Regions from separate parts of the Homo sapiens genome. Here region 1 is linked to region 2. Evidence: fine-mapped expression QTL. Tissue or cell type: subcutaneous fat. Region 2 holds a variant in brackets; the other region holds the start of a gene. All regions are shown on one strand. Distances are between the middles of the regions.

What was found. PIP is the estimated chance that this variant, and not a neighbour inherited with it, causes the effect.
Region 1: KCNC4 starts here. The variant in region 2 is fine-mapped to the expression of KCNC4 in subcutaneous fat (GTEx, PIP above 0.99).

Annotation. Positions count from the first base shown.
Region 1 is chr1:110,206,647-110,214,736 of GRCh38, reverse strand. KCNC4 (potassium voltage-gated channel subfamily C member 4) reads right to left here and starts at 4,423. Exons shown (of 4, transcript NM_001039574.3): 1 at 2,560-4,423. The coding sequence starts at 3,237. KCNC4-DT (KCNC4 divergent transcript) reads left to right here and starts at 4,750. Exons shown (of 2, transcript NR_046546.1): 1 at 4,750-5,126; 2 at 5,533-6,287. RefSeq lists an enhancer at 1,938-2,826 and silencers at 4,064-4,743, 6,706-6,755, 6,766-6,825.
Region 2 is chr1:110,260,163-110,268,264 of GRCh38, reverse strand. It overlaps a transcript of KCNC4 not described here. Among named protein-coding and RNA genes, the nearest start is that of KCNC4, 54 kb to the right of the region's middle. RefSeq lists an enhancer at 5,318-5,397. The variant T/C (reference allele first, on the strand shown) is at 3,661.

The DNA.
Region 1 (8,090 bases), 54 kb after region 2:
AACAGCCTAGTTCAGTGGAAAGAAGGTGTTGTAATCACAAGAGCAAGGGCTTGGGAGTCAGGGACTCTGGCTTTGATTCAAAGCCTGGCCACTATCTGGCTGTGTGATCTCAGGCAAGTTGTTTACCTTCTCACAGCCTCAATCTATTAAACGGGGATAATCACCGGGTTTTAAGTTTATTGGGAGGATTAGAGATTAATGTAAAGTATATACAGCAATGTATCTGTCTGGGGTGCTCAATAATGAGCAGTTATTCATTAATTTGTAAAAATTATGTATTCCCACTTGTGTGTCCCGGGAGCAGGTGAGGGTTGCCTTTGCCTGGGCTCCTGAGCAGGAGGCAAGTCCTCTTTTAGTGCATGTGTTGGCCAGAGCTCCATCCAGATATTCACATCAGGATGAACAACCAGAAGGCTGGAAACTAGGGGTGGTTTCCTGCCTCTGCTATTAGTTAAATGTCTTTGGCAAGAAACTTAATGTCTCTGAATCCTGGTTTTCTCAATGTTTAAATGGAAGAATTAACCTTGCTCCATCATAAACTTCAAGACCTCAACTGGAATGCCTGGGCTGATGTGATTCCATGTCAAAGGGGCAAAGCACCCTGGGTTCCTGGGAAGACTTCCAGGGGCAGGCCAGGCTCTGAGCTTACTCAAAGAGGCCCCCTGGCTTGGCCATTCAGCAGTGAGTTAGGAAGAAAATAAACTCAATGATATGTGGGGTGCCACCTGGAATTCCAGAGGGGAAGAAGAGCAGGTGAAAAGCCCCTAGAAGTCCCAGAATGCTCAGAAATAGGGCCTAGCTCCCCTAACCACCTCATCTCATCCCTGCTTCCCTGGTTTGTCCCCTTTCCCCATCTCTATCTCTATCTCTCCTCCCCGACCCCCAACTTTGAAAGAGTCTGAATGATGTGTGCCTGCCCTCTCTCCCCTAATGCAGACAGCCAAGTGCTAACACTAGCAAGGTTAGTGACCTACATGAGAAGTCTGTAGAACTCACAGCAGACCCAGGCCAGGGGCATCACTATGCCCTCACCTTCTTAGCCAGTCTCAGGGCTGCAAGGAAAGAAACCCAGACAGTTGCCTCTAGCTTTGTTGTCAGTCCTGAGAAAGATCCCTGCCTTCTCGTGGCTGCCTGCAGCCCCAGCCCGGTATGCCATGGCCCCTGAGACCTCTGCTCCTCCCTTCTCTTCCAGGCAGAAGATGCATCTGCCCTGGCCTGGCATTTATGCCAGCCTGGCTTTTCCCTGCAGGCCTGTTCCCCAATTCCCTACCCTGCCTTCTTCTATGACTAGGAAGGAGTCCAGCACAGGGGTGCTGGGAAAGGGAGGGTGCTCTGAGACTCATTAACATGACAATTTGGGATGCTGGAGGAACCAACCAGGTTCCACAGCAAGCAGCAGTCCCCAGACCCAACAAGTTACATTGCTCTTTCCTGTCTCCCAGACAGACTCCAGCCAGGCTTTAGGCTGCTGACCATGAGATCCGACACCAGCCCCCAGAGTTTTCTTTCTTTAAAGAATCTAAAGCCATCCTTCAGGGATTTTTTTTTTTTTTTTTTTTTTTTTTTAGCTGTCGAAGCATAATGGGGGAAGCACCTCCCCCGTTCTCCCCTTTCACCTAAAGGAGTTAGGGAAACTGGATTTACTTGGGGAGGAGGCGGTAGGTCTTGCCTAAATCAACCTGTGCTTCCCCCTTCCCTCATACACCCATTTCAAGCAGTAACCTGAACCAGGGCTTTCTGGAAAGACAGTTTGTGCTGCAGCAGAAAGAAAAGAAGCGGCAACAAAAATCTGGTATCATCACCAGGAAGCCTGTGGCTGGCCACTGGCCGTGGGAGCCTGCAGAGCCTAGAACGCTAGGCCCTTCGTGTTTAATTCTCCTCTCACCCCAGCTGAGGCCAGGACATCCCAGGTGTGCAGGAAGCCTCAGGGGCATGGTATCCTCCCTGGCAGAAAGAATGCCTTTCTTAAACCTGGAAAGGAGGCCGGATTGTGGTCTCAGCTTTGCCTCTTCTGAGCTTAAGATGCTGAAGCCTATATCCTCCTCTCTGAAGTGCATAGTTGTGAGCACACTGAGCTGCTGGGAGGATGTAAATGAGGTGGCACGGCATGGAAGCATCTAACAAAACCCACCCTAGTTTCCTTCCTCTCAACCCTGCCTGCCCCCATCAGAAGACCAAATTCCAGCTCTTCCAGGACCGTAGTCCTGTGTGGAGTGGAGGGCAGCTGAAGATAGGGCAGCCTGTGCAGACCAAAGAAGGGGGTGGAGGAGCTGAGCTGGGCACCCCACTCACTGGAGGGGATGCGGCAAAGCAGGCAGCTGGGACTGGGTCCAAGTAGTAAGTCAAGTGTGTGCAATCTCCTGATGGAGCGTGCAGGGGAGAGGGTGGGAGTGTGTAATTCCCCTGCGAGCCACGGAGGGGGGTTGAGAGGAAGGCGGGAACAATCTGCGGTGGTAAGGTAAGTCAGGCTCGGTCCCTGCTCCTCCCGGCCCCTACCCACCACCCACCACGGACCCCTTGCAGACCCAAGATGGGGAGACACGGGCTCCTGCCACTCACCCTAGCGGCCCGGGAGGAGTAGGGATCCTCGAAGAGCGCCCACATGCGGGGCTGCCAGCCGCGGCAGCCCCCAGACCCGGCGCCATGGCCCGCGCCTCCCTCGTGGGGGCCCAGTCGCTGCAGGGCCAGCTCCCGCTCATCGTCGCCGGCCTCGTCGCTGGGCCCCGCGCCGCTGCCGCCTCCGTCCGGGCTCTCGAAGATGTCGAGCGCCTCCTCGGCGTCGCGGTGCTGCCGGTAGGTCATCCAGCAGCAGGGTTCCACGTCGGTCTCGTCGATGCCCCAGAAGGTGAGCTCCTCTTCGAAGAGCGGCCCGCACACGTCCGCGGGGCAGTGCAGCTTGCCGGTGCGGTAGTAGTTGAGCACGTAGGCGAAGACGCCCGGGTGCCTGTCGAAGAAGAACTCGCAGCCCCCGCCGCCGCTGCTGCCGCTGCTACCCACACCGCCGCCATCGGTCTCGGGCCGGCCCCCGCCGTCGGGGTCGGCCAGCCAGGCGAGGCGGGTTCCCGGTAGGGTGCGCAGGGTGCTGCGGTAGGTCTCATGTCGCGTGCCGCCCACGTTGATGATGATCTTCTCCGACGCCTCGCCCTTGGCCATCTCCTCCTTCAGACATGTTTTGGACGGAGGCTTGTTCCCCGACTTGCGCCCGCGGTAGGAGGAGACACACACCGAGCTGATCATAAGAAGCGCTGCGGGGCTCCGGCTTGGGGCGGCCGCTGCCCTCCAAACACCCTTCCCGAGGAGGCAGCGTCAGACGGGGGAGGGGGAGGAGACGAAGAGGAGGCAGGAGGCGGTGGCGGCCCCCTCTGCGGCTTGGGCTTGCCCCTGCCTATCCCCCTAGGACGCGGAGCGGGAGGAGTTGGATTTCTCCGGTACACAGGTGGTTGGGGTTAGGGCAGGAAGCTCCGGAGAGAGGGAGGCGCAGAGAGGGAGGACCCGGGGAAGTAGAAGCAAGCACACACGCGGTCCCCCGCTACGACGGGACACACAAACGCTCTGGGCCGGGGACACGCCCCCGCCTTCACCCCGACCAAAGACGAGGAAGCGCACAGTCCACGCGCACCGCGAAGGTCCGGGGCGCTCGCGCTCACACGGGCCACCCTCCGGCTCCAAGACCGCACCAAGCCCCGGAATAGCCGGCTTCCCCGCAGCGGCGGCAGCGCAGCAGCAACAAGTCCTCCGAGCGGCTGCCGGGGCCAGGCCGACACTCTCACGGCAGCCGGAGCTCCGTGGGCCCGGGCTGCTTGCGGTCAACACGAGGCGGCGGCGGCGGCATGTGGCCTCTTCCCCCCATTCATAAATCCAGCGCCGGGCGAGGAAGGCAGGCGGGGCAGAGCAGAGAGCGGCGGCCGGGCGGGCGGGGGCTGCGCAGGGCGAGGCGGCAGCTGGAAAACAAGCGCGCCCGCAGGAGCGAGCCTCGGGTCCTGCGTCCGCGGCTGGGAGCTGCGCCGGACCGGGCGCAGCGCTGCGGGGGCCGCGCTGGGGCGGGGGTGCCTCAGACGGGGCGTCCTGCGCGGCGCCGAGCCTGGGGGGCGGGGCCGCTCTGGGGAGCCGGGCTCTGGGCACTGGCGAAGGTGTACCGGGGGCGGCGGCCGAGCGGCCAAGGACACCTGCAGGCTTCCCGGGCCGCGCGGAGAGGGAGCCTCAGCGCAACGCCCCGGCGCCTGGTTCCTGCGATCTGGCGGCGCTGGGAGCCACGCCATCTACGCGTCTGCCCATCTCCGGGCGGGGCGCCGGCCTTGGCTCGCGCGCGGCAGGGGGCGGGCGCGAGGTGGCATAGGGGAGGGGGCGCCTCGGCGCCGGTGGGCTGGGGCCCTAGGGGCTCATGGTCTCCCTCCGGCGCTGGCAGCGGCCGCCACGCCCCAGTGGCGCCTTTTCCTCCGGGGCCCCGCCTCGCCCAGACGCGCCCTTCGCGGGGCGGGGTGGGCGGGGCGCGGCGCAGCGCGGGGCCGATCCGACTCACTGCAGGCCCTGGCGACCGAGCGCAGTCTTCCTCCCCGGAGCCGAGCCCCAACCAAGCGCGTCACCTCCTCGCCGCCAGTGCCCAGCCCAGCGCGCCGCCCCTGCGCGCTTCCGCCGGCAACCCCTCCCGCCCCCCTCAGCCCTGCTCCGCGCCTCCCCCGGGCCCGCAGCTCCTCCCACCGCAGCCCGCTGACACCGAAGCGCTCTCGACCCCTGACCTCTAACCTCCGCCCGGCTCTTCTTGCTTCGTCCCTCGCCCCCTCCCCGCCAAGCTGGTCGCACTGTTGCCGTTTCACTGCGGCTGACGGAAGGCCAAGGAAGAAAGAGGGTAGAGACGCTGTCGCGAGGATCAGGCTGCCCTCTCCTTTCCCAGGGACCGTGTTGGGGCCTTCTGACCACCCCGCCCCGCATCCTGCGCCTCGGAGGCCCAACGTAGCCCAAGACACCCATGGTCTTGATGCTCTCCGCCTCTGTCCCAGCCACCAAAGTCCCCGCGATGGAATGGAGGACGGGGTGGCCTTGGGCAGAGAAGCGCTTCTTGTGCCGGATGGAAGGAAACCGTAGCTCTGGCTGTGTTCATCGCGAAATGTTTTATGGATGTGGAGTGGGTGGGTGGCCCTGAAAAGTCATTAGTTAAAGCCTTTGCTCGTCATTGCTCTGGGGTCCACATAGGAAATGCCCGTGTCCTGCCTCATGACCCCTTCCTGTTTCTACTCTTATTCTACCCATTACAATTTGACTTTGCCTGTGTATATGTCTCCTCTCCCCTCCCTAACCCTGAGCTCCTGCAGGCGGCATTGTGCTTTTTCATCTTGATAGCTCCCACAGTGCCTGCCTCTGAGAACCTGTTTGCTAAGTGATTGAGAAGCTGCCATACCCAAAACGTAGGCACCAACAGGACTTTACTGGCCCTATCCCAAGAGCAATTTCCAGATTCATTTGTTTTTGTTAAGTCCAGAACCTATTTTACATCTTCATATTAATCCCCATTGGGTTTTTTTTTCTTTTTTACAGCTTCAGGCAGCCTCCATGCCTGTCTGGATGATGTAAAGAGATCTTGAGGCAGAAATGAAAGGTGAATGACACACCTGCCCTGGACACCTGTGCACCTTCCCAGTTCCAGATCAGGCAGTACCTAGCTCAACTGAGAAAAACAAGACAAGGGCCTATGTGTGTCTCAGGAAAGGTTAAAAGCTCAGTGCCAATGCAAGGGATTTTTACAAGCAAAAGTCTCATTATTAATGAGGCCAGAAAACCAAAATGACAATGATCTTTGATGATCTGTACTGACACGCAGGGGAGGTGAGTTAATCAGAAACACACATTTACTGGCACCCCCTTTGTGCCCAGTCCCTGCTCCTCGAAACTGATGTTTGTATTTCAGAGTTTAGCTGTCTTTGAGTTTGCTGCAGTGAAAAGAAATATCCCAAGTGTGACTGGGAAGAGAAGACCCGGGACAGGCCAGAAACTGGAGTGAGGAAGAAAGAACCACAGAATATTAATGTAATGAATAACTTTCAAGTCCTATCTGGTCCGTGTCCTGGCAAAGTCCCTTGGGGTCTCTCCCCTGCTTTCCGTTCATCAGGATGACTGAGCTCAGTAATTGTAACAAAGGGAGTGTAGTAGGCAAGGGGACAAAACCCATAGTATCCCACCCCTGATTGACTTATTAACTCAATGAACACTTATTGAATACCTACGATATGCCAGAAGCAGTTCCGGGTACTGGAAATACATCAGTGAATAAAACAGCCACTCATCCTAGTAAATCTGCCCAACTGGTGCTTCCACTCTGCGGTGCTTGTGGATAGTGATGAGCACCTGGGGAGATGGGTAAAGGGAGAAAGCTGCCAGGGAAAAAGGAGGCCAAGAGGGAAGGGAGGAAGATCAGAAAGTTGGGACACAGGCATAGGAACCTAGGAAGAGCTGACAAAAACAGAGGGCCCAGCCTGAGAGAGGCAGCTGGGTAAAGGTGCATGGGGCCAGGACTCCCAGCTCTGTGCACTGACCAGCTCGGGAGAGGGGAGCTCAGCCTCAGTCCTGAGGCCTCCAGAGAATGCCTCACCCTTGCTGAAGGTTTATTCTAGAACTCTGGGCTCACCTGTTACGTGTACCTCTCTGAGGGAGTCGATATGCTGCAGTTAGCACTATGGGACTTGTCCCCATCATTTCTTTGTGTGAGGTCTTGGTGTTCCCTCAAAACACAGAGCCGGGGAAGGATAGGAGAGCCCCCTGCCCAGGCTACTGTGACACAGCCTACCATGGATGTGAGGGTGCTGCCCTCTGGTGGTGCTAGAACATCCTGGCTCCAGACCTCGCCCTGAGCTCTGGGGGCTGTGATGTGGGCAGATGGGGTGGCAGCTGATTCTGGGCTTCCTGTTGATTCCAGGACCTCAGGTACATCTTCTAGCCTAACTCTGCCATTGGGACTCTGCCTACTCCCTCCCTTCTTCATTCCTCCAAGACCTTGATACCTGACAGGCTTAAGCAAGACCACAAAGCAGCCACTATTGGAAATTCCTAGTTCCCCAAGCTTCTTTCCCTCATTTTCACCTTTTCTCTTTTGTCCTCTCCTTAGTGCCCTGGCTTCTTCAGGCTGTCAGGGAAGAGCACCTGTCTGAAAGCCAGTTCACAGAAGGTGTCAGCCACAGCGGGTTTCCCTCATCAGGGGTGAGGGTGTGGTGAAAGAATAGGAAGAGAGGGCCATGGGAGATTCTAAAGGGGCACCGATGGAGGCTGTCAAGCACCTGCACCCTTTCCAGGCCCCCCCTCCACCCGCATAATAAGGTCCTCACCCTCTGAGTGCCGACGCTGACCCTGTCCGTAGGAAGCTGAAAGCCTGAAATCAAAGCCGTTTACCCTTCCCCTTTCCCCACTGGGAGCTTTGTATGGGCTCAGCCTCTTTAGGATGACTGGAGCCATCCAATCTCCTCTCCATCTTCCTTCTTTGAAACCTGTTTGTGGTGAGGGGCTCCAGGCCAAGGCAAGGTTCTATCCATTGGTGCTCACACTTTCCCTTTTTGGTATTCTAGCTCCTGCCAGGGACTGACCCTCCTTCAGGTCCAGGCCAAGGAGCCAGCATCCTTTCCCAGCATGCCTCACTCTCTCCCAGCCTGGAAAATTGAATTGCTTTATCAGACTCATTAGAGGGTGATAGGGCCTCCCCGCTCATGGGGGAACAAGAGAAGGGAAGGCAAGAGCAGGCTGGCAGCCTCCTGTCTGCGTCTCAGCTCACTTCATCCTGCCTCCCCCAACCCCAAGCAGCCTGCAGAGACTTGCAGGCTCCAAATCAAATGTGAGAGCCTTCTTTGGGGGGAGGGGGGTTGGTGGGGGAGGGGCTCTGGGGAGAACCTAGCCCTAGTAATTCAGGTCTTGTGAAGATCAGTAGAATGGCTCTGCCTCAGGACTGAAAGCAGGGTTGGGTTGCTGTGGTAATCCCAGTGAAGTTGTATCTGGGGCTCAAAGGTGGCCTTTGAAGGCCCAGCTCTTAAAGAGAAGAGATCAGAAGCTCGGGCCTGGGCAGGGCTCAGGGCCTCATACACTATGGACCTGGAGTCATAGGGTTGGAGGGG
Region 2 (8,102 bases):
TTGACAGGGGATAAGATCACAGGGGTGTCTAAAGCTGCCTTTGTGCAGCTGAGTCAGGTACTGGGAGGGGGTCTCAAGACCAGGTGGCATCTATCTCTTGGTCTGCCAAAATGCCAAATCTGAAAAAAAATCTCAAAAATATCTCAGATACATATGGGGAAGTTCTTTAGGTTTCACAATAGTGATGTTATATAGGAATAGCTGGGGAAGTTATAAATCTTGTGACCCCTGCTTACATGACTCGGGGGTAGTAAAAAACTTCTAGAAAAGCATGCTAAGTCATGGCAGGTTATTGCTTAACTATGCCTATTCTTCAGCAAAGTTAGAGCCCTTACCATGATTCTAACCATGTATTACGAATGCGACTTCAATCTCTGAACAAGGAAGGGGCAGTTTTTCTGGCCTCAAAGTTTAACTGTAAACCAAATTCCTCTCATAGTTATATTGGCCTCCAGACTAGAATAAGCAAAAAACCAATTTAGCCTGTGAGGTTAGAAGCAAGATGGAGTCTGTCATGTTAGATTTCTCTCATTACTTATAATTCTGCAAAGGCGATTTCAGTCCCTTCCTGGTGGTGAGATACATAGGAAGTGGGGCAAGGAGGATTAAGAATGACAGAATGTAGAGGTTCGCATCTTGCTAAAAGGAACAGAATAAGATGATGGCTAAGGGCATAACCTAATCCTAAGAGAGGCTGAAATGAAGTTTTGCTGGCCAGGGAAGGAAGCAGGAGCCGGATTGTAAATGTACTTAGGAGTGTGTTCATGTGGGCGGTGGAGGCATTGGGGAGTGGTGCTATCTGGAATGTACGGATTCCAGAAGGACATGGAGGCAGCGGGGAATAAGGACGGGCCTCGTATCAGCTGAACTGAGGTGTGTGCAGCACAGCACTGAGCCAGAAATGTACTTAGAGCCTCAGAGTCTATTCATTCCCTTCAAAGAAAACCCCTAGACAGCAACTGCAGTATAAATAGCAAACAAGCAAGCACATGGTTCTTCTGCATCAGAATGGAGAAAAGACGTTGATCCTGAGCAACCTGGAGTCCAGCAGCAGCCCTCCTGGGCCCCAAACCTTCCCAGTGGCCTCCTCAGCTCTCAGAAAACCAGCACCTTTCTCCCCAGCAAAGCCCACCCTACACAGACTGCTGAGCCTCCCACAGCCAAACAAGTGATGAATAGCAGCCCTCTCCCCAAGGGTTCTGCCCACAGAGGCGTGCGGGCTGCTTGCTAAATGGAAGCTACAAGACCTCTGGGGCTGCTGCAGTTTGTTTTGCTGCAGGCCTCTTGGCAGATGGTGTTTGCTCAGCCTGCCCTGCAAGCCAAAGTGAGAAAGTGGGATGCTTCAAGAGAACTAACCAGGAGCTAAGAAGGAGACATCAGAAGGGGCAAACATCCCCATGACAATGGCACATCAAGGCACGGGGTCCTCGGGTCCGGGGAACACAGACTTTAGGTCTCTCCTGGTATTCGGGTCCCTTGGGGTACAGATGCCAAGACTTAAGGGGAAGAAATGGGGCCCATACAAAGAGCAAGGGGGCCAATCTGGATCAAGAATGGCAACAACAGCTGTGGCAGACTTATAGCTAGGAGCAGAGGCTGGAGCTAGGCTGGGTTCAAATCCCAGCCCTGCCACTTAAAGGTTCTGTGCCCTTGGGCAAGTCGTTTTACCTTTCCTCATTAGCAAAATGAGAATAGTAATAGTACCTACTTCCTAGGGTTGCTAGGGAGACTAAAGGAGTTATCCCATGTAAAGTGCTTAGAGCAAGCCTGGCTGTTCCTAAGGACTCAGTGAGGGTTACCAACAATGAATGACTGTTTCCAAAGGGTCTTCCAAAAACCTTGCAGAAATTCTTGCTGCTTCTCATTAGGAAAGTGATGTCCTGGGGCTGGATTTATTTGTGGGACCAGGTTTGTTCTGCACTCCAGCCCCTCCCCTCCTCACTCAGCCCTCCAGGGTGCAGTTTCGGTGTTGCGGCTATGAATGTTTCAATATCTGATCCTTTCAGTCAACTGAGACTCTCTCCCCATGCAACAGTGTTGGGATCTGGTTACCACAAAGCCAGTACTTGTGTCCCTGATCAGCCACTTAACTTGCTTCCCTGCCCATTATTTCTCCCCCTATTTCCAGAGCTGTCGGGGGAATTGGGTGAATTGTACTTAAGCAGAAGAATGCCTGCATCTATTAAATGCTCCACAGTGCCTCTTCTGCCTTCATGGAACTTCAAGAGGCAGTCCCCACCCTGTCCCTAGCTCTCTATGTGAAAAGGGAACAAGGCTACATGTATTTCTTTTGTATTCCTGCGGTGCTCTGAGGTTTAGTGTTATCACATGGTAGGCTGGGTCTATCTGTGCTGAAAGAATGAATGAATGAACAAATGACAAACAAGGTAGGAAGGTAGGTGCAACAAGTCACTTGGGAGGGTCAACAAAGGAACCAAGGGCCTCTCTGGGGCTGGAGCACCACCAGCCCAGTTTCTCCGTGTTTTCAGGAGGAGAGGGTCTAGTGCTGGGCAGGACCTACCCTGTCCTACCCACCTCCAAGGGCCTCTTCCCTGGCTCTGAGTTCCTCTTCGGGGCCCCAGAACAGGCTCCCTGGTGCTAAAATGGAAGATGATGACTATTGGGCCTTTCTCTCCAAACCAGAGATGGTTAACTTTTTGACATAAGTACTGTTGTAATGCAAGAAACTCAAGCAGCCCAGAGGAGTGCAGAGTTCCTCAGTGTTGCCTGGGAACAGGGGCCTGGATGACTTCTTGGGCAGCCCTCTCTAAAAGCTCCTTTGGGAGCCCTCTTCTAGCAGCCTAAAACCTGACTGCTAGGGGCCATCCTCTGGGTGGGGAATATTTTATTTTATTTTATTTTATTTTATTTTATTTTATTTTATTTTATTTTATTTTATTTTATTTTATTTATGTTTTATTTCTGCTGCTGGAAACTCAGGGAGCCTGAGAGTTCTACTGTTCACTCATCAGCCACTTGTAAACTTATTTTTCCGAGGCTTCTAGCCTAGGAAGAACCTGAACACTATAAACGAGATCTTTCTCTGAAGATGCTCAGAGTGTGGGGGAAGGGACAGGGTAAAAGAAGTTACTAGTATAGCATCAATAAATTCTGTTTTGATTGCAAGTGGTTTTGTACTTTATTTTCTTTCACTCTCCCCCACCTTTTTTTTTTTTTTTTTCTGAGACAGAGTCTTGGTTCTGTTGCCCAGGCTGGAGTGCAGTGGCACAATCTCGGCTCACTGCAACCTCCGCCTCCCGGGTTCAAGTGATTCTCCCGCCCCAGCCTCCGAGTAGTTGAGATTACAGGTGTGTGCCACCATGCCTGGACAATTTTTGTATTTTTAGTAGAGATGGGGTTTCACCGTGTTGACCAGGCTGGTTTCGAACTCCCGACCTTAAGCCATCCGCCTGTCTTGGCCTCCCAAAGTGCTGGAATTACAGGCATGAGCCACTGCGCCCAGCCAGCTCTCTCCCTTCTTTCTCCCCCTCCTTCTCCAGAGACGAGTAGGGATCCCTCTTAGGGGTCTAAATAAAGAAAAATCTTGAGTTCCTTCCAGGAAAATTGCAGGCTCCTAGCTAGCCTTGAGAAGTAAATAAGCAACTTGGTAAGCAGGAAGGTAACAGTGGCTTAAAACAATAGCCAAGGAAGTTAAAGTCA[T/C]GTTTGGTTCCCTTTAGAAACTAAAGATAACATCTCAACATATGTTCCTGAGTTGTTTTTCAGAAACCCGGACCCCTACTAAATGGATCTGCTGGCATATCGACCTCAGATAAGGGGGGACTAAGGACTGAACTCTGACCTCTGTTCTTTCTTCTAAAATTCTTCCTGAAGGGCTTGGAGGAGGTCATGCCCATGAGCCAGAGCTAATAATTCTTTTCTGCTTGCTTCCAAATTTTTAGACAAAGCCTCCTTAACCAATCACAAATCAAAAAAATCTTTGAATCCACCTATGACCTGTTCCTCTCTCCTCCACTTTGAGATGTCTTGCCTTTTTAGGTCAAACCAATGCACAGACTCTATGTATTGATTTATGACTTTGCCTGTAACCTCCGTCTCCTTGCCTTCAAAAACTCTTACCTGTAAGCCACTGAGGACTTCAGGGTTTAAGCATTAGTGGCCCAATTCTCCTTGCTTGGTGCCCTACAATAAATGCCTCGGTTTCTTTCATTGCAGTCCCAATGTCAGTGTTTGGCTTTACTGCCCGGGGCCAGAAGACACCTGTTCAGTTAAAAAAACACCTTTTCTCTTTTTTTGTATGCAAAGTCCCTTTTGGAATTCTTCAGTTGTACCAAGAATAACATGGGAAAGAGATTCCCCCACCCCATCCATTTGACCAGGGAGAATGGGGGAGCTTTGTACCCAGAGGAGAGAAAAAGCCCAGAGGTAGAGATGCTTGAGAAGGACTCTCCCCAAATGGAGACCCCCATTCAGCTCCCCCCCCTCACTGAAAGCTTGCTAGAGATTGTTTTTTTTTTAGAGAGGAAGGCTGGTTGCCTTCCAGGCCTCAATTTGTTCCCCAAAGTAGTCTTTCCCACGGGAAGAACTGTTTCTTATTCTATGTATAAAACTGGATTTTTGAACCTCTCAATCAGTCTCCCATATGAAATGTACCCTCTAAACTGGAGTCCTTTATGTAAGGGCCACTTTGAGCCCCAGCAACACTGTGGGTCAGATGATGACCCTGTTTGGAGTGGCGTACATATTTCTGGGTGTCTGTCTGTCTGTGTTGCCCAAACGTGCTCCTATTTAACCTTGATCATCCTTTCTGGCTGAAGGATGCCAAAGTGAATATCGGTCATTCTATCTCCAGCAGCAATCTTAGACAGCCAAGGAAATGTCAACCCTAGGAAATAAACAGCCCTAATATTAGCCTAGATGTGTGGACATGTTTCCTCAGCAGATGTGGGAAAAAAAAAAACCCTTAAATTCTCATGTATTTTTAAAGCATGCCTCATGCACCAAAATCTCCCAAGATGTCACTAAATGTATTTTGGCCCAGAACAGCTGTTATTACCGTATCTCTTACCCAAGGGATGAGCCAGCATCCAGCCCTCAGTTTCCTGGGCTCAGGATAGCTGGCTGTCCCCAAAACAGGTTGAAAAGCCCCACCACTGCTGACCCACATGTTCCCTTTGCCACCAGGCAGGCAGCCATTCTAGAACCACAGCACATGGCAACTCCCTCCACCACAGAAAAATGTGCAAGTGACAGATGCAAACAGGTCATGAAACAGACACCAGAGGTCATGCTGTCACCAATGAGCATTTCCTGACAGGGCCTGTGCACAGCATCCTCTGTTGTTCACAGGGCTATCCTAGGTGATGGGGTTACGCGGAGTCTCACCACAGATGCTCAAGGCTTGACAGGCGGGAAAGACAGGACGTCCTCATCACGACAAATGCTTATTATCAGTCCTGACTGTGCAGGTAAGCACTATAGGAAAGCCCTCAGAGGAGGAAAAGACCAAAAGGAGGGGGTGAGGGCCGAAGAAATGGGACCTAAGAAGTACCTTGTCACAAATCTAGACCTCCACTTAGTAGGGGAGAGGAAGGGCTTCTGGAGAAGTATTGGAGAAAGGTGGGTTTGACAAGGTTGATAGAGACAGTGAGGCAGAAGGACAGCTGTATTGCTAAGAAATTAGAGCTTATCCTATGGGCTTCTGGGAGCCAGAGTAGGTCAAGTAAATGGACCTTAAAATGTATGATACAAGAACTGGAAACTCCCTATTGGCCTGAACTTCAAATTCACTTTCACAAATGCAGCGGCTGCAGATCAAAGAGGTAGGCACTGGGGCAGGGTAGGGTTGGGGAAGTTAGGGAAGAGGAAAGGCACAGAAAGAAGAAGATGCAGTCACTGAGCTCCCAGTTGCATCAAAAGACAAAGTACTCCATAAGAAGCCAGAGGTTGGCTGGGTGCAGCGGCTCATGCCTGTAATCCCAGCGCTCAAGGATGGCTTGAGGTCAGGTGTTCAAGATAAGAAGCCAGAAGTCTAAGGCAGTATACAATAAGCATCACATAATTGCTATAGCACCCAGAGTCTGTTCTTTTAAGCAAACAAATATTTTTATAACTTTGTATTTTATAAGCATTTATTATATAATTATATCTTTATAGTTCTAATAAAATGGAATCAAAACATATGGCCTCATTCACAAGATTTTAAAATAAGGTAGAAAATTTTGTTTCCAATCCTTTTTTAAGTGTACAGGTATGAGAGATTTAAAGGTATTACAAAACAGTGCTTTGGGCAAAATTGTGTAATGATGGAAACATCTAAACATCTGTTTTCAAATGTTTTTTCCTTAGCATGTCATCAATTTTTAAAAGATAATAAAGCATCACCTTTAAAATGGAATGCTTGTTGTTTTGTATAAGAAAAACAAGTAACTTTTTAATTTTGATAAACCTTAAGTACTTGCCATGAGAAAATTGGTAAACCTTTATGGGAATCAAAAGACCTCCCTGGTCACTCCATATCCCATTTCAAAGTGTTATAAGAATTCTGTTATATTTTACAGACCTTCTTTTTATAAAATTAACATCATCAATGACAACACAGCATTTTGTGCACATATGGCTTTAACTTCTTTGCTGCCCAGTAAAGGAATATTAAGTGTGGTTCTATCTTTGTAACCACACCAGATCCCTCTTTTTATTCCAGTCAATACTTTTTCTATAAAGCGTTTTTATTAGGGAAGTCATTTACTCTTTTCCCACTCATCCTCCCTTTAGTGGCTCAAAAATAGTGCTTTATCATATAATTCTCGTATTTCAACAAAATGTAGCAAATCCCATTAACTGAGATGTTAGAAATCTCTATACTTTAAATCAAATATATAGCAGATTTCCTATCAGGCATACTTTGTCCTAATATTCATTTAAAATTTTTTCAGCAATGTTTTTTATGCATCTGTCAATAATGCCTGCTGACAAAAGATTGCATTTTTTATTGCCATATTGTTTTTCATGTCTTATTTCAGCCATTTTTCATGGTAGAAAAAGCAAGTGTTTCCCTAAGGGCATATGGCTTTTTGTGTTTTGCAATTACTAAGAACACTAAAGGATTCACGCATATGTTTATCATTAGATTTAATGAAATGTTAAATACCGGATTAAGCATTGTAATGACTTCAAGCATCAATGAAAAAATTGAGAAAGTTTTTCTTCATGGTCTAGATGCTTAATTTTTAAATATCTTACTAATTGGGAAATTTTCTGCTATCATTAGCTAATATCTCAAGACAAAAACTCTTAGGACAATATCCTTCATTAACAATAATAAATGGCAACCATGTTTCAGAGAATTGTTTTTGCTTTTTATTTATTTATTTTTTTGAGACGGAGTCTCGCTGCGTCACCCAGGCTGGAGTGCAGTGGCGCGATCTCGGCTCACTGCAAGCTCCGCCTCCCCGGTTCACACCATTCTCCTCCCTCAGCCTCCCGAGTAGCTGGGACTACAAGCGCACGTCTCCGTGCCCGGCTAATTTTTTGTATTTTTAGTAGAGATGGGGTTTCACCGTGTTAGCCAGGATTGTCTCGATCTCCTGACCTCGTGATCCACCCACCTCGACCTCCCAAAGAGACAATTGTTTTTTAAATGTTGCATTTTTCTGTCAACTTCTTTTCAGATCTGATTGGATTCTCATTGCTTTTGCCTTATAAAGTGGCTAACAAAGAACTTATAAAGAAAGAAAAGGGTCACCCCAGAAATATTCTTTTTGTTTTTTATGCTTTTACTATTGATATTATCTCCAACCCGAATTTCTTTGCAGGAATCTTTTAAAGACATTTGTTCATTTTGTGAAAGTTATATAGACACATGGTAGGCATTTGAAAAGATGTTGGTTGATTGAGAAAAACCTGAAACCTGATAGATGATATATTCATCATTTCCTCTTTTTTTCTCACACTATCTAGTCTAAGATCATCAATTCCTCTTTACAAAGTCCTAACATCTTACAGATCCCAAAGGATTTTCAAGATCTGCAATCCATGGGGCTTTCAGTGGGAAGCACCCTTATGCCCTAAATGGTTTGATAAAGAGAGGGAAAAGCCCCCCTGTTCCTAGTTCAGGAGGATCAAATTTTTAATTCTCAGGGACT